Linked DNA regions of Homo sapiens. The protein of the gene in region 4 purifies or fractionates together with the protein of the main gene of each other region. This does not show direct contact. Each region holds a gene or a part of one and is shown on either strand. Other genes may lie near its edges.

Region 1 (3,500 bases), on a different chromosome or scaffold from region 4:
AGCAATTTTTAGAATATTAGCTGCAAAAAGAGAATCCCATCAGTATCATCCCTCCTCCCTCATTACCATTCTCAAAACCACCTAAACTGACAATGACACATTTCTTCTAAAGGCTTACAGATTAAAAATAGAAAACCAATAACCCTCATAACATTCAATACCAGAGTTAAGTGAGCTGATCATTCTCTTATATACTAGAAATTAGTACAATTTTTCAGGGAAGTAATTTGGAAATATTTACCAAGACTTTTAGGAAGTGTATACTTTTCGACTAAGTCATTCTTCTAAGAATCTATTGTAATGAAATAATCAGATCTGCATGCAGATAAATGTATAAAGATGTTCACAGGAGCTATATATGCATATGAGAAAATTTCTGAATTGTAGAAAAATTCAGCAACTGGAGGGTAATAAAATGTTGGTACATAGAAACATACAAAGAAATTACAGCAGGGCGCAGTGGCTCAGGCCTGTAATCCCAACACTTTGGGAGGCCGAGGCAGGTGAATCACTTGAGGTCAGGAGTTCAAGACCATCCTGGCCAAAATGGTGAAACTCCATCGCCACAAAAATACAAAAATTAGCCGGGCATAATAGCGGGTGCCTGCAATCTCAGCTATTCAGGAGGCTGAGGAGGGAGAACTGCTTGAACCTGGGAGTCGGAGGTTGCAGTGAGCCAAGATCACACTACTGCACTCCAGCCTGGGAAACAGAGTAAGGCTCCATCTCAAAAAAAAAAAAAAAAAAATTACATTACAATTGCACTGAGGCCATCAGTTTTAGACAGCTATTTGATAAAAAGACAATCTTCTATGTCACAAAGGTAGTTTTACAGCTGTCAAAACACTGAACGTGTTCCCTCCTAAAGTCCTACCTATTAATATTTAGTTCAATGTATCAGGTTAGATAAATCAATACTATGTTTCCCCATCAGAAAAATTGAATCATTTTGGTTCCCAAAACAATGCAAAGCTAACACCTATATAATCAGAAGACAAAAAAAAATCCCCCCAAAAAAGAAAAAAACAGGATATATGTGAACAAATTTGGTGGAAAAACTTCATTTACTTACTTACTGCACATTGTAACAGAGGAAAACAAAAAGGCAAGGGTCAAATTTTCAGTTGTTTGTAACTGCATTTCCTTTCCAGATGCCTAATAATGCTGTCCTTAGATTACAAAAATAACATTATTTCTAAATCACCGTATCACCCTCTACTGTCCCCTATCAAGTAGACTGCATGTTATGTGTTTTTTAGTTGTTTTCCACCAAGTGGTAATAAAGACTGGTTGTGGTAAGTTTCTTACCCAACCCTTTTATAGCCAAAAGCAAAATTAAGTTGATTCAGCAGGGCTGTGGGTATAATCTGTGGCAAATAATGCAAAACTCACAACTTCAAGTTAATTTAATACAGGGCTAACATGTACACAGTTGTGCAGCTGAAGAGACCAACCAGAGCTGGAATCCAGCCTACATTCCAGTCACCACGCATGTATCCGGACATAAAGGAGTACTTTTTCCTAATCATTAAGACTCAATATGAGCTAGTGGGAGATATGACTGAAGTCATGACCCAATCTAAATTAACATCATTATATAATCAACTGCATTAACTAAAAATGGCAAGTATACAGCCTCAAATCAATAAAGGATGTATGCAAAAAAAAAAAAAAACCTCTTCCTGGTCAACTAATAAAATGTACACAATACAATAAAGAGATAAAAGAATATATACGATAGTTAATATACAACCCAGACCAAAAAGTGGCTAGTAGAAAAAAATAACAAAAGTAAAAATAGCACCAGAACAAATGAAATACTTGTGAGAAATATTTCATGTAAAGTTTTATGTAATGTTTTATATAATGTTTCATAGAATAAGTTAAATAGGGAGATAAATGTTTTCTTAGATCTGAAAAAAAAAAAACCCTTGTAACACTAAAATCAGCCCCTATTTGTTAGGAATTATGCTTGTAATGGAAAAAACGGCCAAGTGTGGTGGCACACGCCTGTAATCCCAGCACTTTGGGAGGCCAAGGTGGGCAGATCGTGAGGTCAGGAGATCAAGACCATCCTGACCAACATGGTGAAACCCCATCTCTACTAAAAATACAAAAATTAGCTGGGCATGGTGGCGTGTGCCTGTAGTCCCAGCTACTTGGGAGGCTGAGGCAGGAGAATCGCTTGAACCCATGTGGCGGAGGTTGCAATGAGCCGAGATCACACCACTGCACTCCAGCCTGGTGACAAAGCGAGACTCGAGACTCTTGTCTCAAGAAAAAAAACATAAGAAAGCAGTTATTTTCAAGGCTGATAAAAATAAAGCAAAGGATGTACTACACTAAAGTGCTCTCTGTCTTGGGTTGTAAAAATGGGAAAATATCTACAGACTCGTACTTTGAATTATTGTGCATTCATATATATTAAAAAGTTAGAAAATAGTCAAGTAATTTGTCTAAAAACTGGCAAAGGATACAAAGAAGTCTTAGCATCCTGAAATTGCTGAACTGTTATGACACGACATAATGTCTTAGCCATTTCTAAAGAAGCATGCAGCATCAAAAAGTAAATATTTTTAAAAAGTGCCTTGTCTACAAGTTGAGGCACACAACACAGGAAACATGGTCTAATTTATTCAGGAAAAGTCATATTTCTACTCTATTTATCTAAAAATCAACTTACAAATAATAAGCCCCAATGAACACATACTGCATTCTCTATATTTATTAATAATCTGTCAACTCATCCCAGCTCCCATTTGCACTGGAAAATTTATAATTTCAAGAAACACCTAGTAACTTCAGAATATATCTACTTTTAATGTTATCTCCACCTATCCACTAGTTATCAATTTTTTCATTCAAAGGGCATTATAAAAAGCACCAAAACTCCTTACTTCAGGATTACAATTAATCTCTATTTACCAAAGAGAAGACTGGAAGTTTGCAATAATTTACAGGTAACTTATCAGATACCAAGCCTAGACTAGGAACTGGAAGTAATCCTCTACAAAAACATAAAGTGGCCAAGTGCAGTGGCTCATGCCTGTATAATCCCAGCACTTTGGCAGGCTGAGATGGGAGGATCACTTGAGCCCAGGATTTCAGGACCAGCTTGGGCAACACAGTGAGACCCCATCTCTACAGAAACAAAGGAAAAAAAAAAGACAAGTCAGGCACGGTGGCTCACACCTGTAATCCCAGCACTTTGGGAGGCTGAGGCGGGCAGATCATGAGGTCAGGAGTTCGAGACCAGCCTGGCCAACATAGTGAAACCCCATCTCTACTAAAAATACAAAAATTAGCTGGGCATGGCTGCGCCTGTAGTCCCAGCTACTCGGGAGGCTGAGGCAGAAGAATCACTTGAACTCGGGAGGCAGAGGTTGTGGTGAGCCGGGATCACACCACTGCACTCCAGCCTAGGCAACAGAGCAAGACTCTGTCTCAAAAAAAAAAAAAAAAAAAAAAAAGACAAAAGATGACACAGTTATGCAAAAATG
Region 2 (3,500 bases), on a different chromosome or scaffold from region 4:
CTACTCCAGCCGTGGGAGGGTCCCTTCCACCTGTGCTCACCCCTCGCCCTTCCTTGGTAGCTGCTGAGAAACCCACACATTCCAGATCATTCTCCCACCCTAGCACTTCCTGGTCCACACGGGGGTCCCTGGCTTGCTTGGCCCTTTGCGGGTAAATGATTCAGAACGTGCAGCTCCTCTGGATTCTCAGGAGTCTTCACCACACCTCTGGGTTCTTCTGCCCGAGCCAGGCGTGCAGAGCCAGAGGGCCGGCGCACTTATGTCCCTGAGAGGTGCCTGGCGCTGCCTGTCCTCTCCTATCCAGTTTGAAGCGGGAAAGGGAAGAATGTTCTGGGAAGTACAGGGAAGCCAGGTCCAGGAGAAGCCTTGGCCGAGTCCCTGGAGCGCCTAGTCCTGGCTCTGTGGGGCAGCACCCACACCCTGAGCGTGACCTGGCCCTGCTGTGCGTCGTGCACCTGGGCTCCCCAGCCCTCCTGCTGTGATGCCAGCTGGGAGGTGGACTCTGATGGGCATGTGGCCCCGGCTCCCCCTGCAGGACCGCCCGGGTGTCTTCTCGGCCGGCCTGGACCTGACGGAGATGTGTGGGAGGAGCCCCGCCCACTACGCTGGGTACTGGAAGGCCGTTCAGGAGCTGTGGCTGCGGTTGTACCAGTCCAACCTGGTGCTGGTCTCCGCCATCAACGTGAGTGTCCCCACTCCCAGGTGGCCTCGCTGGCTGTTCTGGGCCAGCGCCAGGGGGTGGGACAGACACTGTCCTGCCCTTGGAATCTCTCACAGGGGAAGGGGACGGTTGGAGAGGCCCTGAGATGTGCACAGGTGAGCGCCATCGCAGACCACGGGGCGTGTTGAGAAAGGTGGGCCTCGGGTGAGGGCCCTGGCCTGGGTCAATCAGACAAGACCCAGAAAAGAGCCAGTGGGTAGGGACCAGGGCCTGGGGTTGATGCCAGCCTGGGTGGAGGCTGTGTGGGTGAGTGGGTGATCGGACCCACATTTTGGAAACATCACTCCATCCCTTCTGGGGGAAGGCCAGGGAAGCCGAGAACAACACGGGGGCTTAACCTCAGGAACCAGGGTGTCCTGCGGGGTGGCTGTGACAAGCCGGGTGTGGGCCGGAGCCTGGTGGAGGGGAGGGCTGGTGTGAGAGGAAGCCTCAAGGGTGCACGGCCATGCAGACAGGATGGGTCCTGCGCGGGGCAGTGGGTACCTGCAGTGACCACAGGGTGAGTGTGGGGTTCCCAGGACATCCTGGTTGCGCTAGCTGCTGGGGTGGTATCGGGGCCCCCTTGGGGCATGACAGTTATGACTAAATGCTTGTGTGGCATTTTAGCATTGAGTAAAAGCACTGAGAGGACAAGCGACTTGCTCCCCTAACTGAATGGTTTTTAAAAGTGATTTATCTGTTGCCGAAGAACTAATGACCCTCGGCTGAGGACGAGCCTCAGACCCTCCTTGCCGAGCGCTAAGGGGCCAGTTCCTTCCTCATCCATTTCCCAGTGCACACCCAGCCCAGCCCAGACCATTGTGGGTGTTGAACCCTGCGGGGGTCGGGGTGCGCCAAGGGCACAGGCCCTCCTTCCTTGGACCTGGCCCTCTGGAATGTGGTTGGGACCAGCAGCACCTAAGAGCCCTGTCCGGCCTCTCCCTGCAGGGAGCCTGCCCCGCTGGAGGCTGCCTGGTGGCCCTGACCTGTGACTACCGCATCCTGGCGGACAACCCCAGGTACTGCATAGGACTCAATGAGACCCAGCTGGGCATCATCGCCCCTTTCTGGTAAGGCCCTGGGCTGCAGCCACGCTCCATGCTTGTTGTGGAGGGAACAGACCCGCCTGGGGCCATGTGGTGAGTGGGTGTCTGCATTTCCAGGTTGAAAGACACCCTGGAGAACACCATCGGGCACCGGGCGGCGGAGCGTGCCCTGCAGCTGGGGCTGCTCTTCCCGCCGGCGGAGGCCCTGCAGGTGGGCATAGTGGACCAGGTGGTCCCGGAGGAGCAGGTGCAGAGCACTGCGCTGTCAGCGATAGCCCAGTGGATGGCCATTCCAGGTGAGGCACGGGGCATGGCGGGCGCCCGATGATGCTGGGGAGACCAGAAGGTTCTCCACCCAAAGGTTTTCTGTGGACATCGTGACTTCGGGAGACTGTTGATAATCACAGCCATGTGGGTGTCAGGAGGCTGCTGTAACAACGCAGCACAGACCGGGTGGCCCAGACCGCAGAAGCTCATCTCACGGTGCTGGAGACCAGAGGTGCAAAATCAAAGTGTGGGCAGGACTGCACTTCCTCCCTGCGTTCCAGGGAGGCTCCTTCCTGCCCCGCCCACTTCTGCTGGCTCCAGGCCTCCCTGGGCTTGTGGGCGCCTCGCTCTAATCTCTGCCTCCATCCTTACGCAGCTTTCTCCCCTGTGTTTCTGTGGGTCTCAGGTCTCTCTCTCCCTTCTCAGGACACCTGCCATGTGATTTAGGACCTACCTTAAATCCAAGATGATCCCAACTTAATTACATCTGCAGAGACTCTTTCCAAATAAGGTCACACTTCCAAGTTCCAGAGCAGTGGTTAGGGCTTGGACCTATCTTTTGGGGCACACTTTTCAACCTACTACAAAGACAATTGTCCACTTCATAGAAAAAGAGCTGGTCATATCAGCGATGGTATAGACCAGGGCCCAGCAAATTCTGTCTCTAAAGGGCCAGGTGGCTTGTGGGCTCTGTAGGTAAGACCTTTGTAGCAGAAAGCAGCCACAGAGGAGACGTAAACTGACAGGTATAGCTGTGTTCCGGCAAAGCTTTATGGACAGTGGGCCAGGTGCGGTGGCTCACGCCTGTAATCTCAGCACTTTGGGAGGCTGAGGCAGGCAGATCACTTGAGATCAGGAGTTCAAGACCAGCCTGGCCAACATGGTGAAACCCCATCTCTACTAAAAATACAGAAATGGGCCAGGCGCGGTGGCTCACACCTGTAATCCCAACATTTTAAGAGGCCGAGGCGGGCGGATCACAAGGTCAGGAGATCAAGACCATCCTGGCTAACACGGTGAAACCCTGTCTCTACTAAAAATACAAAAATTAGCCAGGTGTGGCGGCGGGCGCCTGTAGTCCCAGCTACTCGAGAGGCTGAGGCAGGAGGATGGCGTGAACCCGGGAGGCGGAGCTTGCAGTGAGCTGAGATCGCACCACTGTACTCTAGCCTGAGCAACAGAGAGCAGGACTCTGTCTCAAAAAAAAAAAAAAAAAATGAGCCGGGCGTGATGGCACGTGCCTGTAATTCCAGCTACTGGGAGGTTGAGGCAGGAGAATCGCTTGAACTTGGGAGGCAGAGGTTGCAGTGAGCCAAGATCATGCCATTGTACCCCAGCCTGGGTGACAGAGTGAGACTCTGTCTCAAAAACAACAAAAAAAATTTTATGGACACTGAAATTTGAGTTTCACATAATTTTCACATGTCACAAAATACTAACCTTCTTTTGATTTTCAACTATTCAAAAATGTAAAAACCAGCCCGGCA
Region 3 (3,500 bases), on a different chromosome or scaffold from region 4:
CTCAAGGTCAAACAGAGGGAGCTGTGTAAACTAGACTGGAACCTGGTCTCGTGGAATCCCTCACATCTCTTAGAGCAAGCTTGTCCAACCTGTGGTCCATGGGCTGCATGTGGCCCAGGACAGCTTTGAATGCAGCCCAACACAAATTTGTAAACTTTCTTAAAACATTATGACATTTATGGACTTTTTTTTTTTTTTAGCTCATCTGCTGTTGTTAGTGTTGGTGTATTTTACGTGTCGCCCAAGACAGTTCCTTTTCCAGTGTGGCCCAGGGAAGCTAAAAGATTGGACACCCCTGACTTAGAGGGTTCTGGAGTTCTGGGGCCCAGCATTGTCCCAGCTTCTGGGAGCCTCCCTCTGTGCCCATTTGTAAACCTTCCAGACTGCTCAGGAAATCCAGCGGGAAGCCACAGGGCACACTGGGCTTTGGAATCAGCCAGTTCTGAGTTCAACTGTGGCACCACTGTCTACTGGGGACTGTGTGTGGATGGGCTGTGGATTCAGGCAGGCATAGCTCACATTTCAGCCTTGCTGCTCACGAGGAGACAAACTTGGGCAAGTGTCTCCACCTCTCTGTGCCTCAGTCACTTTTCCTCTAAAATAGAAGCAGCACAATACCTCATCCCCAGCACGGTGTGAAGATTCCATGGAATAATATCAAAAGGGCTTAGAACGGTGTCTGGCATGTAGTCATTGCTCAATAAAGACAACCGTTATTATGTTGTTGTTATAATCATTACCTTCTCCTACCTCATCTGCCCTGGCTCCCAGCTCCGGGCCTGTGCTCCCCGGCCTGGGTCTCCCACAACAAGGCTCATTGTGTCAGCTGTCCCACTGGCAGCATGGCACCCTCGAGGGAAGGCACAAAAGCCAGGATGCCTGGGCCCCGGGCATGGCCTTCCTTTGCCTTCATTTGCTTCAAGATCTTTAAGAGCCCAGCAGCCTCTCTTGCCTGGGAAACTGGAACCAGAGGGAGCACTGCTGGCAGAGAGTCCCCACTCTTGGAAAGCAACTCTTTTCAAGCCCACCGGAATTACAGCCAGCTTTCTGGCCTACTTGGTCCCCACTGCCCCCCTACTCCAGCCAGCCTGGCCTCATCATTCACTGTCCTGGCAAAAGGCCCTCGGCACAGGTCACCTTCAGACCTTTGCCCAGTCTGTTCTCTTTCAACCAGGACCATCCAAATTCAACTAATTACTGCACTTTCTAATTTAAATACTGCCTTCTCCCCTCCCCTACCCAAATACACTCCATGTCCTTCCTCCAGGAAGTATCTCCTGGCCACTCCAGCCCACATGATCTTTGAACTCTCCTTTCACGTAGCTGATACCTATGGTCCCAGTGTCAAAGTTACTTCCTCTGGGAAGCCATGCTTAACCCACCAGGGTGTGCCTGCTGAGTCCCCCCACAGGCCCGATCTACCACAGCAATGAACACTTGGTACGATGTGGCTTTGATGATTCAGCATCCTTGATGGATGGCCAGGTCCATGAGGGCAAAACCAGGCTGTCTTGTTTGGTATCACCTCCCTGGACCTGCTCACTCAGTCCCTGCTGAGCACTGGGGGTCCTTGGTGAGCGAGCCGGACAAGGTCCTTGACCACATGGAGCGTACTGGCTCCGGAGGGAGACAGATCCACCTACAGGGCCCATAAGCGCCTGTCGCGTAACTGGGACCAGTGTCTTGCAGGAGAAGGGGCCTGGGGCTCTGGATGCCCAATCAGGGGACTTGCCCTGGACTGGGGAGTCAGAGCAGGTATCCTTAGAAGTGACATTTCAGGCCAGGTGCAGTGGCTCACACCTGTAATCCCAAAACTTTGGGAGACTGAGGTAGGTGGATCACCTGAGGTCAGGAGTTCGAGACCAGCCTGGCCAACATGGTGAAACTCCGTCTCTACTAAAAATACAAAAATAAGCTGGGCTGGTGGCGCACGCCTGTAATCCCAGCTACTCGGGAGGCTGAGGCAGGAGAATTGCTTGAACCCGGGAGGCGGAGGTTGCAGTGAGCCAAGATCACACCATTGCACTCTAGCCTGGGCAATAAGAGCAAAACTCCATCAAAAAAAAAAAAAGAAGTGACATTTCAGCTGGGACCCAAAAGATAAGTCCTAGTTAACTCTGGTGGAGGGGAGAGAAGGGGAAGGCGCTTTGGGAGGAAGCAAAGAAGTACCTAAGCTGCAAGGAGAGGGGGTGCATGGGACGTTGGCACTACGGGCCCAGGTCCATGACTATTTGCTAAATGAACAAAGGAAGCACTGAACACTCAATGTGGGGCCTGCCACAAGGTGAGGTTTCAACAAAGGCCTGTGGAAGGAATGACAAAGTACTCGCCATCAGAGGTCTGCACGAGGCCTGGGAGGTATAGTACACTCTCGCATTCTCCCTGCTTGCTGCACTCAGGACACTGCTGGGCGCCCAGTGGCTGCAAATGATGCCTCTTGGCTCGGAGGCTCTGAATGAGGGAGAGCCACTGGGGTTTTGCCTTTTCTGCAGGTCTGAGCCCAGTTACCTAGGCAGCTGCTCTGCCCTTACCATGCTCCCCAAGTGGAAGAAACACCACCACGTCAGTTGTCACGGTCACCAAAAGCCCCCAAAACATAAGCCAGGTAGATGGCGCCATCTGCTAGCCTCCCCTTAGCAGTGTTGACCTTGCCACTCAGGGCTGGAATGAGCTGGAAGAGGAAGCAGCCATCTTACATCCTGGCACAGAGACTGAAGGGCCCCGGGGCTACCATGCCCTGAGACCCATCCAGCTGCGGGCCTGGCACCTGCCAGAGGCAGCCATCTCTACCTACTCCACTCTACCTACTCCATTCCTTAGGGATTGTCATTCTCAGGGCAGTCACAGGCCATCTGGAATTCCAGCAACTGAGGACAGAGGGAGCTCTGGTTATGACCGACCACCACACTGGGAGAACCCTGTGTCTTTCTCCATCCCTTTTCTTGCATGTTCTCTAATACTAGGTCTATCATGAACATTCGACATCCTGGGGAATGAAGGAAGTGGGAGAGAAGAGAGAGAAAAACAGCACCAGCAGCAGCAGCAGCAGAAGGCACCGCCATACCACGTCCATGTTGGCTGCTTCCAGATGTGGTCCTAAGCTCCTTACAGGCTTTACTCCCTCGAGTCTCTTACTCAACCGACAAAATATTTCCTAGTACCCTGTACTTGCAACTAATTAATCATTTACATAACAATTTGTCAACTGACACCCTCCTACTGCCTGTGAGCTCTGGGAGGACAGAAGCTGTATGCTTGCTTGCATGCCTGCATCCATGCACATGTACACACACACACACACACACACACACACACACACACACGTGCGCAAGCGCGCACGCACCTGTATCCTTGGTGTCTGACTTCGGTGCCCAATTTATGCCTGGTGTTTAATAGAACAAAGGTTTGCTGTGGCTGGAATTCCCTTACTCTAGTACTGCAAGATAGAGATTATTACCCCATTTTCTGATGAAGATACTGACGCATACACAACTAAGCAG
Region 4 (3,500 bases):
CCCTGAACACACACACACATATACACACACAACTTTCCTAGCCAGTAGGAGCGCTGAACCTCAACTACCATGACTCAGGGCTGAGCTCCAAGCATCACTTTACTGGTGTTCCTAACTACCCCAGCTTAAAGAGATCACCTCTGCCACCCCTAAACCCTATAGCACTGGCTGTGACTCCCTCTCCTGTGGCACTCAGCAGAGAGTACTGCATTTTCTTTCACACTCATTCATCGCAGCTGTGAGACTAGGGCTGTGCTTTGCAACCCCCATAGCACCCGGCATATATTGCTCTGCATTCAGTGTATATTTGAGAGCTCTGTTCTTTTGGAAACACTAACCCATGTATTTTGAATTTTATACCATTTGTAGATGTACCAGCAGCAATATGTCCTGTCTTATGGATTACAACCATGCCTAGAAGTTAAAAAAAAAAAATCACTGTAGGTGTATAAAGTTTACCTCAAATATAACCAAATAATTGAGCAACTGGTAATAACTGCTGTGCTCTGAATGTTTGTGTTCCCCCAAATTCATGTCAACATCCTATTCCACAAGGTGATGGTATCAAGAGGTGAGGCCTTTGGGAGCTCATTAGGTCATGAGGACAGAGCCCCCATGAATGGAATTCATCCCTTATAAATGAGGCCCCAGAGAGCTTCCTCGCCCCTTCCACCACGTGACGACACAGCAAGAAGACGCCATCCATGAGCCAGGAAAACAAGCTGTCTCCAAACTCTGAACCTGCCAGCGCCTTGACCTTGAACTTCCCAGCCTCCGTAACTGTGAGAAATAAATTTCTGTTGTTTATAAGCCATCCAGTCTGGGTATTTTGTTAACTGCCACTATAACAGGCAATTAACATTATTAATTATTATTAACAGGTGGGGCCTTTAAGAGGCGATTAGGCTAAAAGGGCTTAATGCCATTATCGCAGGGAGTGGGTTCCTGATATAAAGGATGAGTTCTACCCGATTTCCTGTCTCATTCTCTTGACTTCCACCTTGGGATGGCCCTTGCCAGATGCCAGTGCCCTGTTCTTGAACTTCTCAGGCTCCAGAACTGTGAGGCAAATAAACTTTTGTTTATAAATTACCCAGTCTGTGGTAGTCTGTTATAACAGCGAAAAACAAACTAAGACATAGACTAATGTAAATTTTCAACATTGTAACTTGGAAAAAGTTATTTAAGGTCACTAAAATACAGCAACATAAAACTGCCAAAAAATGAAATGTCAAATAAAGATTTAAAAATCCGCAAGTGAATAGTCATTGGGTTTTAGGTGTCTTGTATAAATAATTTGCCAAATTTTATACAGATCCTAAGACAAGATGGATCTATCTATAGAGAGGCACACTTAATTGGCAGTTAAAACAATCAAAATCAACTTCTGGTAGAAGAATAGGGAAGAGCTACAGGAAGATAATTAACTAAACTTTATCCATAAAAACTGCACAAAAGGCAAATTACCAATAGTGTCATGACCACGATCATCTTCTGTTTCTTTATGGATAGGAATATCCTGCTTTAAGATACCAGGTGGTTTGTAGGGTCCGCAGTATTTTGAGGGATCTGGTATAACATTCTGTAAACAAGATTTAAGTTTTATTTCTTACAAAGGGTATTTTTAGAAATTGCCAAGAAATTATGTACAATCGCTAAACACTAGCAAGAAACCAAAAAAAGACATCTGGTAACTTAAAGATAAGAATTAAAAGCTAAGAAATCACTAAGTCTTATATAAAAACAAATAAGATAAATAATTTTACTGAATATCCATTCTAGTCTAAGAATTAAATAATACAGGTGAGGTATCTATATTGCATGACACAGGTCCCTAATTTCTCTCTTTATATATATCTAAAATTCTCAACACAATAGTAAAATTTTTTAAAATTAGATATTAATCCTTAAAGAAATTAGATACACACTGGACCTTTAAATTTCAGAAATTTGTTCCTTGGCCAAAGAATTCTGAGACTTAAAGTAAAATATGTTTTAAAAGCTTTTATTGTTTCTTCAAAGCTAGGTTTATGTGAATATATTCTAAGTTGTGCTTTAAGATTCCTTTATAAATCTAAAGGGCTCAAGAATATAATGCAAACTCATAAATTTAGGTTGTGTATGTAGACTGGTATTAAAGCAAGAAACCTATTCCTATTCCTCATGTCTTACACATCAGTGCGCTAGGTGCCTCCCCTAACTTCGTTTTATGATTAGCCTCTTTCAAGTGCTAACCCAAGGGACTTCTGACTTGATGGCTACTCGAAAGTAATTAGGACTTAGGGAAGAAATAGATGAGAGACTAAGATATCCCACAGAAGGACCCTGTACGGCAAAGGCAAACTGATTTATGCCAAAAGTCTCATTAAAGAAAAATTATTCCACTGGTAACATACTAGACATGTAATATTACATGTCCTCAAGTCAAGAACAAGATACTGGATACACTGCACGTAAAATCTAAGAAATATTTTAGACTCATAGTTTCCAAACTGATTTTTTAGACTTAGTTAGAAAGAAATACAAGCAGAGCAGCCCTGATTGAGGCAGCCACCTCCACATGGCAGAAACTTCAGTTTGAAAACTATTGTGAGAGACCAGTAGCTCTCCATGCTGGATATGCACCCAATGCAGCTAGAGGTGTTTCAGGAACATCCATACCTGGAGAGTCAACTAAAACCACTAGTTCTAATGTACAGCCAGGATGCTAACCAGTACCCTGGACAACAGGCAGGCAACACTGAGCAGAAAGGATGTCACTGAATATTTTCAATTAACTTATTTTTTTAAATTAAATGTGTGCATACCCTCCAATAATTTGGCTGGCAATTCCGAGCAAGCCAATCTGAATGAAGAGCTTGAGAAGCAGTGGTAGATAAGTCTTCATTGATAAACCCCATACTTTGAGCAAATGTGGTGGCTGGAGATTGGAAAAAAGGAAAGTATAAATTATTCAAGTATTGTCTTTTCAACAAAAATATATGTACTAGAGACATTCTGGGTCAGCAGCATCTTAAGTGAGCTACACAAAGACTTTCAAAGGAATATTCACACATGAACAGTTTTAAGAGACTCAATTTTTAGACCTTCGATTTCCTTATGCCTTTCCTAAAACAGATCCACTTAAAACCTTTGGGGCATGCATTATAAGAGTTCTCGTCCCGGCCAGGCGCGGTGGCTCACACCTGTAATCCCAGCACTTTGGGAGGCTGAGGCGGGTGGATCACGAAGTCAAGAGATTGAGACCATCCTGGCCAACATGGTGAAACCCCGTCTCTACTAAAAATATAAAAATTAGCTGGGCATGGTGGCACGTGCCTGTAATCCCAGCTACTTGGAAGGCTGAGGTAGGAGAATCACTTGAACCCAGGAGGCAGAGGTTGTCGGGAGCTGAGATCGCGCCATTGCACTCCAGCCTGGGTGACAAGAGCGAAACTCCGTCTCAAAACTTCCATTGCCTTCTTCTTAGAGATGAAGAAGTAAAGAGATTTAAAAGTTAC
Region 5 (4,194 bases), 7.3 Mb from region 4:
CCATTTGTCCTTGACTGGGTGGGTAATGGATGGTAGGAGGATTATGCAATTTTATTTGTAACTGTTTTAGCCAGGACAAAAGCTCTGGAATTCTAAAGCAAAAAATGTATATTTAAATTCATAGTAGTAAAAATCATAGTAACAGTAGTAGACAGGAAATAATAAATGACAGCTTTATCAAGCACTTTGTACACTCAATTAAAAAACCCTCAAATGCTTTTTGCCAGTATGAATATTCCTATTTAAAAGATAGGCAGTAGACTTAGAGATTAGGAAATTCCTGTAAGTCATTCAGCCAGAAATTCTCAGAAAGTCAATTACGTAATAAATGAGCTGAGATTTGAATCTACATCTTTCTTATTCCAAACCTGAAGTCTTTAGCGCATGCGTTGCATAATCGATTCTTTGTTCTCTCTAGGAAGAGTTCTATGGCTACCTAGAAGTTCAGACTCAATAAGTTGTTTGTATCATGGAATGTTTGAATAAGCCTATGTATATTTAACATATTACATAACTAACACATATATACATGAATAACATTTCAATACACTTTTCAATCACAGAACAAAGCAGGTTTTAATAAAGTATAATTTATAGATTCTCTATAAATTATCCTTTATCACTTGAAGAAGACCAGCTAAGAAAGTCAAGGTATATGTTTCAGCTTGCCTTTAAGAAATTAAAGACATTTGAACCTATGAGGGCAATGTATTTGAATGGCTGCTTGTTTAGACTATAGAAATGAATGACTATATTCAATGTATTTGCATGACTGCTTGTTTAGACTATAGAATGAAGAAACGGAAGATCCAGGATGCTTAAACTTTAAAAAGTTGAAGCTTCCTGGATCTTCCGTTTCTTCATTTCTCCTGATATGTTTGTTTCACCTGGACATCTTCTCATTTTTTTGGACTCAGCTCTAATGGTATTTCCTTCTAGAAGCCTTCTTGGTCATTTGCGATTGAGAAGCAATCACTGAGGAGTGTTAAACATTCAATATCCTTTCTGTTCTTAATTATCCTTTGAAAACCTTTCCCCAGACCTTCCTAACCATTGAATACTCATTTGGTTAGTATTCAATGACTGAGTATTTGGTCATTGAATGACCAAATGGGTCAATGGCTTTAGAATATTTATGAATGGACCTTAGAATATTTCTTTAATATTCTTTATCAATGGGCCTTAGAATATTTCTTATGAAAATAAGCCAATAAAATTATGTTAAGTATTGATACTTACCCAGCACTCGGAGAATACTGAAGTGCTCTCTTCATCATCTCTTCTCCAAATTGGATGGTCTTTCCATTTTCTACAGTGATTACGGCAGTCTTAAAAGGAAACATGTTTGGATTTGGTAAGCCACCAGCCAAGGAGATCATCGATTTTGGTCCTCTGCTCAATATGTCAGCTACAATACACATGGAAGAGAAGAAACAATTTCATTGAAGATTGTTATAAGCGGATAGTTAAGCATGCATTATAGTCAATAAAACTATAAAGTTTAACGATTTCTAGTGATAGAGTGTGCTATGGTCTAAATGTTGGTGCTCCCCCAGATTCATACTTGGAAGTTAATACTAATGTGATAGTTTTAACAGGTGGGGTCTCTAGAGGTGATTAGGTCAGGAGGGATCCACCCTCCTGAATGGGATTGGTGCACTTATAAAAGAGGGCTGAGGGAATGCCCTTGGCCCTTCTGCCACGTGAGGACATAGGTTCTCCCTTCTACCACGTGAGGATGCAGCAAGATGGCTCTGTCTATAAGGAAGGGCTCTCACCATGGTGACACAGAAGCTGCTGGCACTTTGATCTTAGACTTCCTAGCTTCCAGAACTGTGAGAAATAATTCTATTGTTCATAAATTACCCAGTTTGTGGTATTTTGTTATAGCAGCCTGAATGGACTAAGACAAAAGCTAGTCTAAAATAAACATACAGAATAACTTTTTCTAGGCACCTCACTTGTGGAGGGACTAAAGAATGAAGGTGACCAAAGAGAAGGCAGAGGGATCAGAAAGACAGCAAAGGGCCACAATAGCAGAAGCCCTCCTCCACTTAGCCCCGACCTGTCTGTGAGCTTCATGGCCCACCCCTCTCCCATTTACCTGGCCCTCTCCACTGTACACCCATCTGCACGCTGTGCATGCCCCTTCTCAGCTTCCCAGGAAGAGCCTTTCTTGATAGCACGCCCCCTCCCTTCCAAGGCCGTGCCCCACAGCAGTCTGCGCCTCTCTCTACTGTTGCTCCTACTCTGCTCCAGCAGAAATACCCGCCTTCCGTTTCAGCCCGAGTTCTTTGAGAACAAAGGCTGTGTCTATTTCATTTCTGCACGCAGAGCCTGGCTCACCGCGAGCGTGCACAGGGGTACGCATGGATGCAACCAAGCGGTGGCTTGCTAGGGAACCCTCCTTAGAGGCTGTGCGAGGAATGCCCCACCCCAAAGGAGAGATGGTCACCCCGTTTCTCACTCATGGTCCGGATGGGAGAAGGGTTTCTGGCTGCGCTCGCTGCCGTGATGAACCGTGCGTAATTCATGTCTTCTGACAGCCAAGCATCAAGCTTCTTCTTCAGTGGTTGAGGACTAGAAAAACCAAAGAGCCTCGTCAAGTCCTGCCTGCTAACTCCTCACTCTGGCAACGCCACCGCGAGATGTGTCCCCCCGCTGCGTCTGGCTTCCCGCGCGCGGTGCCCGGAGAACGCCGCCGAAACTCCCCGGCTGGACGCTGCGTTCGGTCTCCCGGTCCTAAACGGGTCTGGGGCTGTGTGGCGAGCCCGGCAAAGTCCACGCCGCACGCGCTCCTGCGGCCGCCAGGGCCCAGGCCGGTTTTGCCCCGCCGCGGGCCTCGCCGCGCCCCCTCCCGCCCCGCGCCGTGGCCTATGGCCGCCCGCGGCGCGCGCCTCCCCGTCCCGGATCATCGCCCTCAGAGCGCAGGGCGCGGGGTAGCCCAGGCGCGAGGCGCTTGCAGCCCCAGGCCAATGACTCTTGACCTCGCCGCTGGGAATCACCGCAACCCGGCGTCCGCGTTGGCCGGCCTAGGCGCCGGCCCAGAGGCTAGCCCAGGGGCTGACCGAGGGGACCGGAAGTGCCCGTGATCCTAATCCTCGGGAACCATCTGGCGGCGACTTGGGTCCACTGCAGGGGGCTCCCGAGCTGCGCCCAGCCGGGAGCGGCCCCACCCTCGTTCCCGCGCGCTCCGCTGGCCTCCTCTCAGTCACTGGGACTGTGCATTTTGCCCGCTCAGACCATGGCTATGCTAAATACCCATCTTTCGTTAGTGAAACTCTGGGCACTCTCCTGGGAAGCATCCCGGCGACCAAGACGAATTTCAACATCACTTTCTCGAAGATCTCAGCATTTTGGAGTGACGATGGAGTTCTGACAAAAATTTTTGAAAAATCACTCTGAGTCTCTTCAATTTTAGTGTCTACCCTCACATTGAATTTCTGACCTTTCGTTAAATAAGAATTATGTTGGAAGTGAATATCCGGATCTTTTTGGGTCTAGCACCTTGCCTTTTTTTTTCTTACAAAATAACCCTTCTTACTCCCCACCTCCCTCAACTTTTCTGCAATTTCTCCTTCCTGAATCACCAAAATGGAATGTACAAGGTTTAATGTGAGCACTTAATGAGGGAAGGGTTTCAGACAACCTCTCTTTGACTTTAAAAAATTCTTTAATGGTTATTAAAATGAATGAACAGATTCATTCATTCAGCACAAATTTACTGAGTACTTCCTAGATGATTATTGACTCACTGCCAAATGGCTCTCTTTTAAGTTTACCTAATAGGTTGGTCAAGGAGCCACTGCTTTTATCTAGGTCCTGGCAGCAAAAGGCTGAGATAACCCAGTAAAATCTTTGTGCTAGCAGCTAAATAACAAAAAGGAAGTATTGAGAGGTGACAGCCTGCTGGCAGCCCTCGCAGCCCTCGCTCACTCTTGGCGCCTCCTCGGCCTCAGCGCTCACTCTGACCGCGCTTGAGGGGCCCTTCAGCCCGCCGCTGCACTGTGGGAGCCCCTTCCTGGGATAGCGGAGGCCGGAGCCGGCTCCCTCAGCCTGCGGGGAGGTGTGTAGGGAGAGGCACGGGCGGGAACCAGGGCTGTGCGGGCGCTTGCGAGCCAGCTAGAGTTCCGGGTGGGCGTGGGCTTGGCGGGCCGGCACTCAGAGCGGCGGGCCGGCTCCGCCAGACCCGGG
Region 6 (4,292 bases), on a different chromosome or scaffold from region 4:
GAAAAGCAGACTCAATTGGAATGCTAGTTTTTTTCACATTGTGTAAGTTAAAGGTACAACAGCTGCTATATGCTAAATTATCACTAGTTATGGGACTTTAGTTACAGTACTTGAATTTCCCCCCAATCCAACTTCTTAAAATGTGTTGAAATACCAACTAGCAATAAGTTAATTTCTCCAGTGTAATTGAATAGTCTAACTTGGTATCTTACTCCTTAACTGATTTTGACTAAAATTATAATATTTACAGGAAAAAAAAAAGTTCAGAGTTAAAAGAATACCATGAAAGGGCAAATGATTTTATGGACAAACTTTGAACTGCATCTTCACTGTTCATTACCTTACTGTATTTGCTAAGGAAGCTAAGATCTCATTTAATTTTTGTGTGCTTTGCTTTGGTTCAAAACTAACATCACATTCTCAGAACTTGGTCAGGCCTTAATCAAATAAAATGCTATTGAGCTTCCACTTGGTCTTTCCACTCTGCTAAGTGCAAAGACAGTTCTGGAGAAATCAGTCGTGGCTCATGTCCTCAAGGAGTTGGTCAAAAGACAAGGCTTGGCGAATATGTACGTGCCATGTCAATGAACTGCTACAATGGAATAAACTTATAATAATGCCTAACATTTATTGACTCCTCATAATAAGGCCATAAACTTTGCATGAATTAACTCATAGAAACGTTATGACGTTGTATCACAAGCAATCCTAATTTGCAGATGAGGACACTGAGGCTTAGGGAAGTTATCTAACTTGCCTAAGGTTAAAGCAATATACTGCTTTTATGGTTGCATCTTTAGTAATCTCTGGGGTTGCTGGGACTCCAGTGCGAGAAAGAGCCCGAAATTCGCAAACTTGGATGATGGGGAAGAAAAGGTGTGCTAAACTCAGGTCACAGAGGTCCAGTCTTAATCTTGTTCCTCTGCAAGCCTTGTTGCTCACACCTCTTGACCGACAGTTCGAGGCAAGTGCTCACAGCAAACTTACTCTATGTAAGCCAAGGCCAGATGTGGGGAGAAGGGGCTGAGAAATGTTAGAAACGTGAACGCAGTCCAGGCGGGAGAAGAGAAGGGGGCCTCGAGGGGTGCCCCTATGCAGCCCACACACACGCCAGGCACTAACTTGGAAAAGCAACAAGCTTGGCGGGAGATCCTCCCGCGGCCGGAGGGCCCTGAACCCTAGGCCAAGACTCATCCACAACCTAGGGGGAGGCGGCCACCAGCGCCCCATCGAAGCTAAAGGGCTGACAGAAGGGCTGTAGCGGCAAGTGTGCGCCAACACAGCTGCACACGCCCAGACACCTGAGGCGCTGAGAGGAACTTCCCCGCGATCCGCCCCGGCTGCACAGAGCCTCTTCTCCCCGCCGGGGCCCCGCCCAGCCTCACTTCTTTTAAAAGCAGCAGCCAGCAGCGCGCCGGTGGCGTGCGGCTCGAAAGGCCGGGAGGACGTCATCGACGCGCTGTCGAGCCTCCAGCCCGCCCGGGTTTCCTTCGCAGTCGCGCACCGACGCTCAAACGCGCGCTCCAACCCGCAGCCTCCTCCTGCCTCACCGCCCGAAGATGGCGGCTCTCAAACTCCTCTCCTCCGGGCTTCGGCTCTGCGCCTCTGCCCGCGGATCTGGGGCAACCTGGTACAAGGTAAAGTGCGGGGGAAGAGGAAGGCCATGGGCAGGAAGAACGTGGACCAAACCCTGAGTGGTGCCCGCGTTTTCTTCTCTGCCCCTACCCGCTCTCTCCAGCCTGGGATCTGGCATCCGTGGCGCGGTGCCCTGGTCACGGACACGCGGCGACGCGTTCCTGGCCTCGCCGGCCCCTCGGATGACCGCCTTTGCTTGGTTCTGCAGTCGCTTCCCTGATGGAGCGAGACGCGATAAAGAAGCGCGCGGAGAGGCTGAGAAGGGGCGGGAGGACTCCTGGCAGCGCTCCCGAGCCCTTTGGCGCTCGTCGGCTTCCCTCCTGGCACCCGCCCTTGGATAGGGACTCTGAGGGTCTGAACGGGGGGAGGAGGGCGCCAGTATATGGAGGTTTAGGAGTGAGGCAACAGCGGGTAGGTTTGCGCCCCCGATGTTGGATCTCTGGGCAGAGGAACCTCTAGAGGCCCAGAACCTGAGGCTGGGTTAGCCATGGCTCTGCTCGAGTTCACCGGGGCTGGATGCCGGGTGCGGCGGGTGTGGAATGCCGCTCCCATCCTCTCCTCCCTATTTGGCTCTGCTGCCCCGTAGACTGGAGCGCTCGCCAGGGCGTCTTGCCGGCCAAGCTGGGAAACCATCCGAGGTGTGTCCCTGGCCCGCGCCTGGGCTGCAGGGGAGGACAAACCTTTCTCTCGAGGCCCCTCGTATCCGGGTTAGGGGCTTTCGGTTTTCAGAGCCCTTTGAAATCCTTTTTGTGCCCCACTGCCGACTCTCCACCGAGTGGTATCCGGAGGCATTCCCACCGTGGACTGACTTGTGGTTTTGCCTTATGCACTGTCCTCGCTTGTAAGCCCACCCCTGTCTGGAGCCCTAGGAGCGAATTACAGGACCAGAGCGCCAGGTCCAGGAGGGTGGCTTTATCCCCGCCGTCTCAATCGCGGGAGCCTCTTCCTTGGTATTCAGTAATAGGTCTGAGCTTGACAGCGTGCCATGCACACGGTGCTTACTCCTGAAGCGTGCCTGCCTGGCCCCATTGCTCTTTCCTGCATCCAATCCCTGACCGCTGAGAACACAGAGGAGCCACTGAGCTCCTTCGGTAGGTGCTAGGGAATGGTTCAGAACTGGACCATTTTACTCTTAAATGCCTCTTAGGAAGCATTTTTATAACTGCAGATAGACTTGGATATATAAAGCATTATTAAAAGGGAACTTGACCTTCAGTGAGATTGCAGCGGTGCTGAAGCTAATACAAACCAGAGCACAGCGATACCCTTGGGCCGAGGTCAGGAACGTTCCTTCTTTTGACAGTTACTGATTTGCCCAACTGTAATTTACTCACTTCAAGTCTTTTCCATCTTGAGTATATCATTAAACCATTTCCGAAGCTCAGCAAACCTCATCTTAGAGGGACGAGATGCAAATAAGGGGTTCTGCTATATCTCATTAAAAGTTCATACAGAGTTCAAACTTAGCCCTGTCAGGCTTGATTATCATAGGTCTAACTCCTGCCTTCCACTATTCCCCTAGCTTGTGGCTCTTAGTGCCCTTATTGTTTTTTTTTTTTTGAGACGGAGTCTCGCTCTGTCGCCCAGGCTGGAGTGCAGTGGCGGGATCTCGGCTCACTGCAAGCTCCGCCTCCCGGGTTCACGCCATTCTCCTGCCTCAGCCTCCCAAGTAGCTGGGACTACAGGCGCCCGCCACTACGCCCGGCTAATTTTTTGTATTTTTAGTAGAGACGGGGTTTCACCGTTTTAGCTGGGATGGTCTCGATCTCCTGACCTCGTGATCCGCCCGCCTCGGCCTCCCAAAGTGCTGGGATTACAGCCCTTATTGTTTAGCACTTTAAATCCTCACCTGCTGCTTCTGTTGAACTGTACCACTTATCTACTTGTTTAACTTTTCAGATGTGTATATTGTCTCCTCAACCAGATGACAGTTCCCCGATGGCAGAGACCATATTTATGCCTTACACTTAGTCTCCCTCAACAAACACACTACTCTGCATAGATCAGATATTCTACACATGTTTAAAGTACGGATGAGAGAACCCTCCAGGCAAACAGAAACCTTGAGTTTTTCCACTAAACATAACTAACAGCTAAAACGAGATAGTTATTTTCTTAAATGTTTAACATTTTTATAATGGGCAGGCCCAGTGTCTCGCAGACCTGAGAGTGCATCAGCATTACCTGGAGGTTTTCTAAAACAGATTGCTGTACCCACCCCCAGAATTTCTAATTTAATAGGTCCTGGGTGGGGCCCTAAACTTTGCATTGATAAGTTCCAGGTGATGTTGATGCTGCTGGTCTGGGGACTGACTGCCCCTTTCAGAGTTATCTGGCATGGACTTAGGTGAAAATAGACTATTGGGAGGTATCTTCTTTTCTTCATTATTACTGAGGGGCAGTGGGGAGCATTTAATACTATTTTCACTATAGAAAATTATTAGTGGGAAAAAGGTTATAAGAGTACCACTAACACTTTACCCACCATTCATCCTTGACCCTGTCTTTTCCCAAATCTCTTTCCAACCTCTGACTCTCCTGAGCTGCAGTCCTTCTGGTGCAACTGGTGAACTTCACTTGGATGTCAGTTGGTGCTTAAAGCTCTTTCTGATCCAAAGCAAACTAGCCATAAAGTGGCTTTCCCATTCCTTGTTTTG
Region 7 (4,145 bases), on a different chromosome or scaffold from region 4:
CCCGGGTTGCCATGGCAACCTGCAGCCAGCTCCAGCCCGGGACTCCGCCAGCCTGGGTAGGGGCCGGGACTCGCCAGGCACGGCTGCTCCCAGCTCTGAGGCCTCCTCCTTGGGCTTGGCCCTGTTTCTGCTTGGACACAGAAGTGGTGCAAGGCCACAGAGAGGCACTTCTCCCCTGTCAGGTGGGCCAGGCAGGCCTGGGCTCCCCTGGGCTCCCACTGCCAGCTTTCTCCCAGAGTAAGGCCTGGCCCCTGGGCCTCCAGAGTCCAGCACCTCTCAGCACCCCACCCCGGCACCCATTGCTCCAGCACCCATCACTCCAGCAGCTGTCAAGCCCATCAGCTGCCTGGGTCACCACAGCACCAGTGTATGGACAGGCCTCAGGCGCCGGCCAGGTCAGCGGCCTTGAGGCTGTTATGTGGGCACCGATAGAGGGGCAGTGAGATGATTCCCTGCCTTACCTCACAGCTGGGGGGTGCCAGCACTAGTGTGAAGCTTTCTACGTGATTTTTCTCCTTTAATGGCACTCCTGACAGATGAGGAAACAAGCTCAGAGCAATTAAGCGACTTCCCAAGGTACAGAGCTGCTGCTTGGTAAGAAGCAGAGACTTGCAACTCCTGGGCCCAGGTTCCTGCCCTGGAGCCTGTTCCTGGATGCCCTGGGCTGAGCCCTGCACGTCAGCAGAGCCCATCACCCAACCACTCACCTGACCCCCCGGCCACAGGGCTGTGCCCAGTCTACACAGACACACAGCAGAAAGAGGATGGCCTTCAGGTTTCCATTTAATGGCCAAGCCAGCACTGCCAAGATGTCCTCCTGCCTGAGAAGCCCACCCACGCTGGCACCCCTCAGCCTCACTAGCGGCATCCCAGTCCAGTCCTGGTGTGGGGCCTCATCTCAGCTCCTTCAGCAAGCTGTTGACAGAGCCCAGCAGCTCCTGGAAGTAGCCCTCGTCCTCACCATCCTGCAGCTCCAGGCTGGCCAGCACCTGGTACTCAGCCTGCAGGCTGGCCAGTGTCCTGCCGAGCTGGGGGTCCTGACGGTAGCGGTCCCGGCAGGTGGTCAGGAGGACGCCCAGTGTCTGCAGCACCTTCTCACGGGCATCATGCTCGGGCAGCGCCAGGAGGTGGGCCGTGATCTCGCACCAGCCCTGTTCCCACAGGCCTGGCAGGAGGTGTACCTGGCGATACTGCTGCAGCTTCTCTGGGGACATCTCCTGGGTCAGCTCAGCCTCCTCCTCGGCGAACATCTGCCATCCGCCACAGCCGCAGGCCAGGTAGGGTGGGGGTGGGGAGAGAACACACAGGGAGCAGTTAGCTCACACCTGGCTAGCTCTGCCCTTCAGACAGGAAGGCACGAGGCTGACCCCTGAGGGCCCACCTCTTCCTCTATCCCCAAGTCTGTCTGTCTATTCATTCATTCATCCACCAACAGAAACACTTGTGTGGTGCCAGGTGCTGAAGAAACCACGATGGAGACATAGTCTTACCCTCAAGGAGCTTAAGGTCTAGCAGGAGAATAAAAATTAACTAATTCCCAAATAGCATAAATGTAATCTAACAGTGCAGCATGGAGGCAGACAGGCTGGCTTCAAATTCCTGCTCCACCACTGACTTGCTGAATGACCATGGCTGGCACTTAGCCTCCCTGAGACTCATCGTCATCACCTCCTAAGTGGAGAAACTCAGCCTGTCTGTAAAGCGCAGAAGCCCAGCTCTATCAGCAGAACATGGTGGGAGCCAATCCTGCCGGGCTACCAGCAGCGGGAAAGCCAACACCTGAACCATGACAAGCAGGCAGGTTACCTGAAGGTCAGAGGTAGAGGGTTGGGAGGGGGCAGAGATCTCCCGTGCAGCTGTAGGAAGTGTGCCTGTATGGAGAAAGAAGGAATGCCTGCCCTAACTCCAGGGGAGAATGAAGCACAGGGAAGATGCACAAGGCAAGAGGGAAGCCCAGGAGAAGAGGAGGCCACAGTGGACCACCTGTGCTTCCTGCGGCAGCAGGAAGTCGTGGGGCTGATTGGGGCTGGCAGAGGAAACTGAGGAGGGGTGCAATCCTGCATCCTGGGACAGGAGAGGCTGAGAGGTATCCCCTAGTCCTTTCCTACTTCACCCCTCAGTCCTGCCAGCTTCGCTTCCAAAACACACCCCAATTCTGTCAGCTCCACCTTTGTCCCTTGTGTCCTGCGATCCAGTGCCTCCTGCTCTCACCCTCTCCTCCAGCCCCCAAACCCTCACAGCCTGGCATTGCGGGTGATAAAGACAAAATCAATCCCTTCCCTGGGACTGCGAGGCTCTGCAGGCTCTGCCCCCACTGTGCGCGGCCTGGACCCACTCACACCCACTCCTGTCACTCTAACTCTCCCCTGGGGCCTCTGGAGGCGCAGCTCCGACTTCCAGGTGCACCCCCGCATTGGCCCCATTCACTCCACGGCTCCCTGCACACCTCACCGCCACTGACCGGCCTCCCCTGACTGGCCTTCTCTGCTTATATGCTGCTGTGGTTTGAGTGTGTTCCCTAAAAGTTCAAGTGTTGGAAGCTTAATTCCCAAGGCAGCAGTATTGAGAGGAGCTGCCTAGGTCAGGAGGGCAGCGGGTTCCTTACGGGAGAGCGGTTGTTATTCTAGAGAGCAAGCCCGGCCCAGCATGCTTTTTTCCGCAAGTGCTCTTGCCCTCTCACCTTCCACAATGTTGTCATGCAACACAAAGGCTCCCGCCAGATGCACCCACCCAATCGTGGATTTCCCAGCCTCCCGAATCATGAGCCAAAAACTGCCTTTTCTTTATATTATCCAGTCCCGGGTATTCTGTTAAAGCAGCAGCAGACAGACTACAACACAAGCTCAGGGGAATTCTCTGATAAACATCTGCCTGAAAGCTCAGGGACGACAGGGACTGCGGATTATTTTCCCAGCACCCGGCACAGCAGGCAGCACAGGCAGGCAGGGTCCCCCTGCGGCCCTTCAGCTCCTCAGATGCACCAGAGGCCATGGAATCCAAACCCCAGGCAGGCATCTCACCACTGCAGAAGCCCAGATGTCAGGGCATGGTCTCTCAGTAGAGGTCCTCTCACAGGCCAAGGTACATATGAGGACTGCCTGGGGCCTGGCAGACCCCAGCACCCTGATGGGGGTGTCACATTGCCCATGGGAATTCCACAGTCCTTGGCTGTCATGACAACATGCTGCAGTGATCCCCGAGCTGCATGGCACCCCTCCATCGTGGTGGACAGCTCATGTCCCTCCACCTTCAGGCAGCTCTGGACCCACCCCTAGCTTGGCTAGGTCTTCATTCTTAAGCGCTGCAAGAGGCTGGACTTAGTGACTCACGCCTATAATTCCAATACTTTGGGAAGCTGAGGCAGGACTGCTTGAGCCCAGGAGTTCAAGACCAGCCTGAGCAACATAGTGAGACCCTGTCTACAAAAAACGAACAAAATTAACCAGGCATGGTGGCATGGACCTGTAGTCCCAGCTACTCAGGGGGCTGAGGTGGGAGGATCACTTGAGTCTGGGAGGCAGAGTTTACAGTGAGCCAAGATCGTGCCACTGGGTGACAGAGAGAGACCCTGTCTCAAAAAAAAAAAAAAAAAAGAAAAAAGAAAAGAAAAGAAAAAAGAAAAAAGAAATCACAAGAACAGAGAAGCCCTGACTGCCTCAGCCCAAGTACAGTGTGTCCTAAATCTCTCTGGCTGAAATTTATCTGCTGTCCTCCCTGAAAGAAGAGGGCCATTTCTGTACTGTTTGTAGAGAGATGCCAGTCCTCCCCTCCCCAATCATGTCAGCACCCCAAAGCTTCCAGAGGCAGGCTCCCGGGGCCGGCAGCCTCGGGGCAGCCTTGGTGAGCCTGCCTGGTGGTAGTGTGCTAGCAATGTGTCAGTGCCATAGTGCCCAGGATGCCAGGGCTGGGGGCAGCAGGGACACACACCCAAGACACCAGAGAACAGAGCCCAGTTTCCCTGGGAAATGCCCAGCCAGCTGACATGTCCTTCTCCAGGCTCACTGGCCCAGTCCCAGAACCTGAACTGTGCCCAGGCCTTATCAATTGGATCTGAGCACCACATGGCTGCCTGCTGTTCTAAGAAACTGGATTTCTGCAGCTTTAACAAGAGAAGAGAGAGAAACAGGCAAAGACAGAGAGTTGGG

Evidence for each region.
Region 1: the proteins of AGA (region 4) and MOB4 purify together in Homo sapiens (affinity purification with mass spectrometry; 3 studies listed by BioGRID and IntAct, with this or other methods). This does not show direct contact.
Region 2: the proteins of AGA (region 4) and ECI1 fractionate together in Homo sapiens (co-fractionation; one large-scale study listed by BioGRID). This does not show direct contact.
Region 3: the proteins of AGA (region 4) and ZER1 purify together in Homo sapiens (affinity purification with mass spectrometry; 3 studies listed by BioGRID and IntAct, with this or other methods). This does not show direct contact.
Region 5: the proteins of AGA (region 4) and AADAT fractionate together in Homo sapiens (co-fractionation; one large-scale study listed by BioGRID). This does not show direct contact.
Region 6: the proteins of AGA (region 4) and OXCT1 fractionate together in Homo sapiens (co-fractionation; one large-scale study listed by BioGRID). This does not show direct contact.
Region 7: the proteins of AGA (region 4) and SIL1 purify together in Homo sapiens (affinity purification with mass spectrometry; one large-scale study listed by BioGRID and IntAct). This does not show direct contact.

What each region holds. Positions count from the first base shown.
Region 1 is NC_000002.12:197,536,566-197,540,065, reverse strand, and holds part of MOB4 (MOB-like protein phocein), read right to left. Parts: intron 1-3,500.
Region 2 is NC_000016.10:2,241,588-2,245,087, reverse strand, and holds part of ECI1 (enoyl-CoA delta isomerase 1, mitochondrial isoform 1 precursor), read left to right. Parts: intron 1-535; coding exon 536-682; intron 683-1,648; coding exon 1,649-1,770; intron 1,771-1,863; coding exon 1,864-2,042; intron 2,043-3,269; exon of another isoform or gene 3,270-3,453; intron 3,454-3,500. UniProt on the Homo sapiens protein: Key enzyme of fatty acid beta-oxidation. Able to isomerize both 3-cis (3Z) and 3-trans (3E) double bonds into the 2-trans (2E) form in a range of enoyl-CoA species, with a preference for (3Z)-enoyl-CoAs over (3E)-enoyl-CoAs.
Region 3 is NC_000009.12:128,761,928-128,765,427, forward strand, and holds part of ZER1 (protein zer-1 homolog), read right to left. Parts: intron 1-3,500. UniProt on the Homo sapiens protein: Serves as substrate adapter subunit in the E3 ubiquitin ligase complex ZYG11B-CUL2-Elongin BC. Acts to target substrates bearing N-terminal degrons for proteasomal degradation with the first four residues of substrates being the key recognition elements.
Region 4 is NC_000004.12:177,435,938-177,439,437, forward strand, and holds part of AGA (N(4)-(beta-N-acetylglucosaminyl)-L-asparaginase isoform 1 preproprotein), read right to left. Parts: intron 2,921-3,500; coding exon 2,808-2,920; intron 1,583-2,807; coding exon 1,468-1,582; intron 415-1,467; coding exon 339-414; intron 1-338. UniProt on the Homo sapiens protein: Cleaves the GlcNAc-Asn bond which joins oligosaccharides to the peptide of asparagine-linked glycoproteins.
Region 5 is NC_000004.12:170,087,157-170,091,350, forward strand, and holds the start of AADAT (kynurenine/alpha-aminoadipate aminotransferase, mitochondrial), read right to left. Parts: upstream 2,801-4,194; 5' UTR 2,581-2,800; coding exon of another isoform or gene 2,535-2,580; coding exon 2,468-2,534; coding exon of another isoform or gene 2,456-2,467; intron 1,409-2,455; coding exon 1,240-1,408; intron 93-1,239; coding exon 1-92. UniProt on the Homo sapiens protein: Transaminase with broad substrate specificity. Has transaminase activity towards aminoadipate, kynurenine, methionine and glutamate. Shows activity also towards tryptophan, aspartate and hydroxykynurenine.
Region 6 is NC_000005.10:41,867,626-41,871,917, reverse strand, and holds the start of OXCT1 (succinyl-CoA:3-ketoacid coenzyme A transferase 1, mitochondrial isoform 3 precursor), read left to right. Parts: upstream 1-1,492; 5' UTR 1,493-1,559; coding exon 1,560-1,637; exon of another isoform or gene 1,638-2,174; coding exon of another isoform or gene 2,175-2,273; intron 2,274-2,315; exon of another isoform or gene 2,316-4,292. UniProt on the Homo sapiens protein: Key enzyme for ketone body catabolism.
Region 7 is NC_000005.10:138,946,224-138,950,368, forward strand, and holds the end of SIL1 (nucleotide exchange factor SIL1 precursor), read right to left. Parts: intron 1,251-4,145; coding exon 894-1,250; 3' UTR 501-893; downstream 1-500.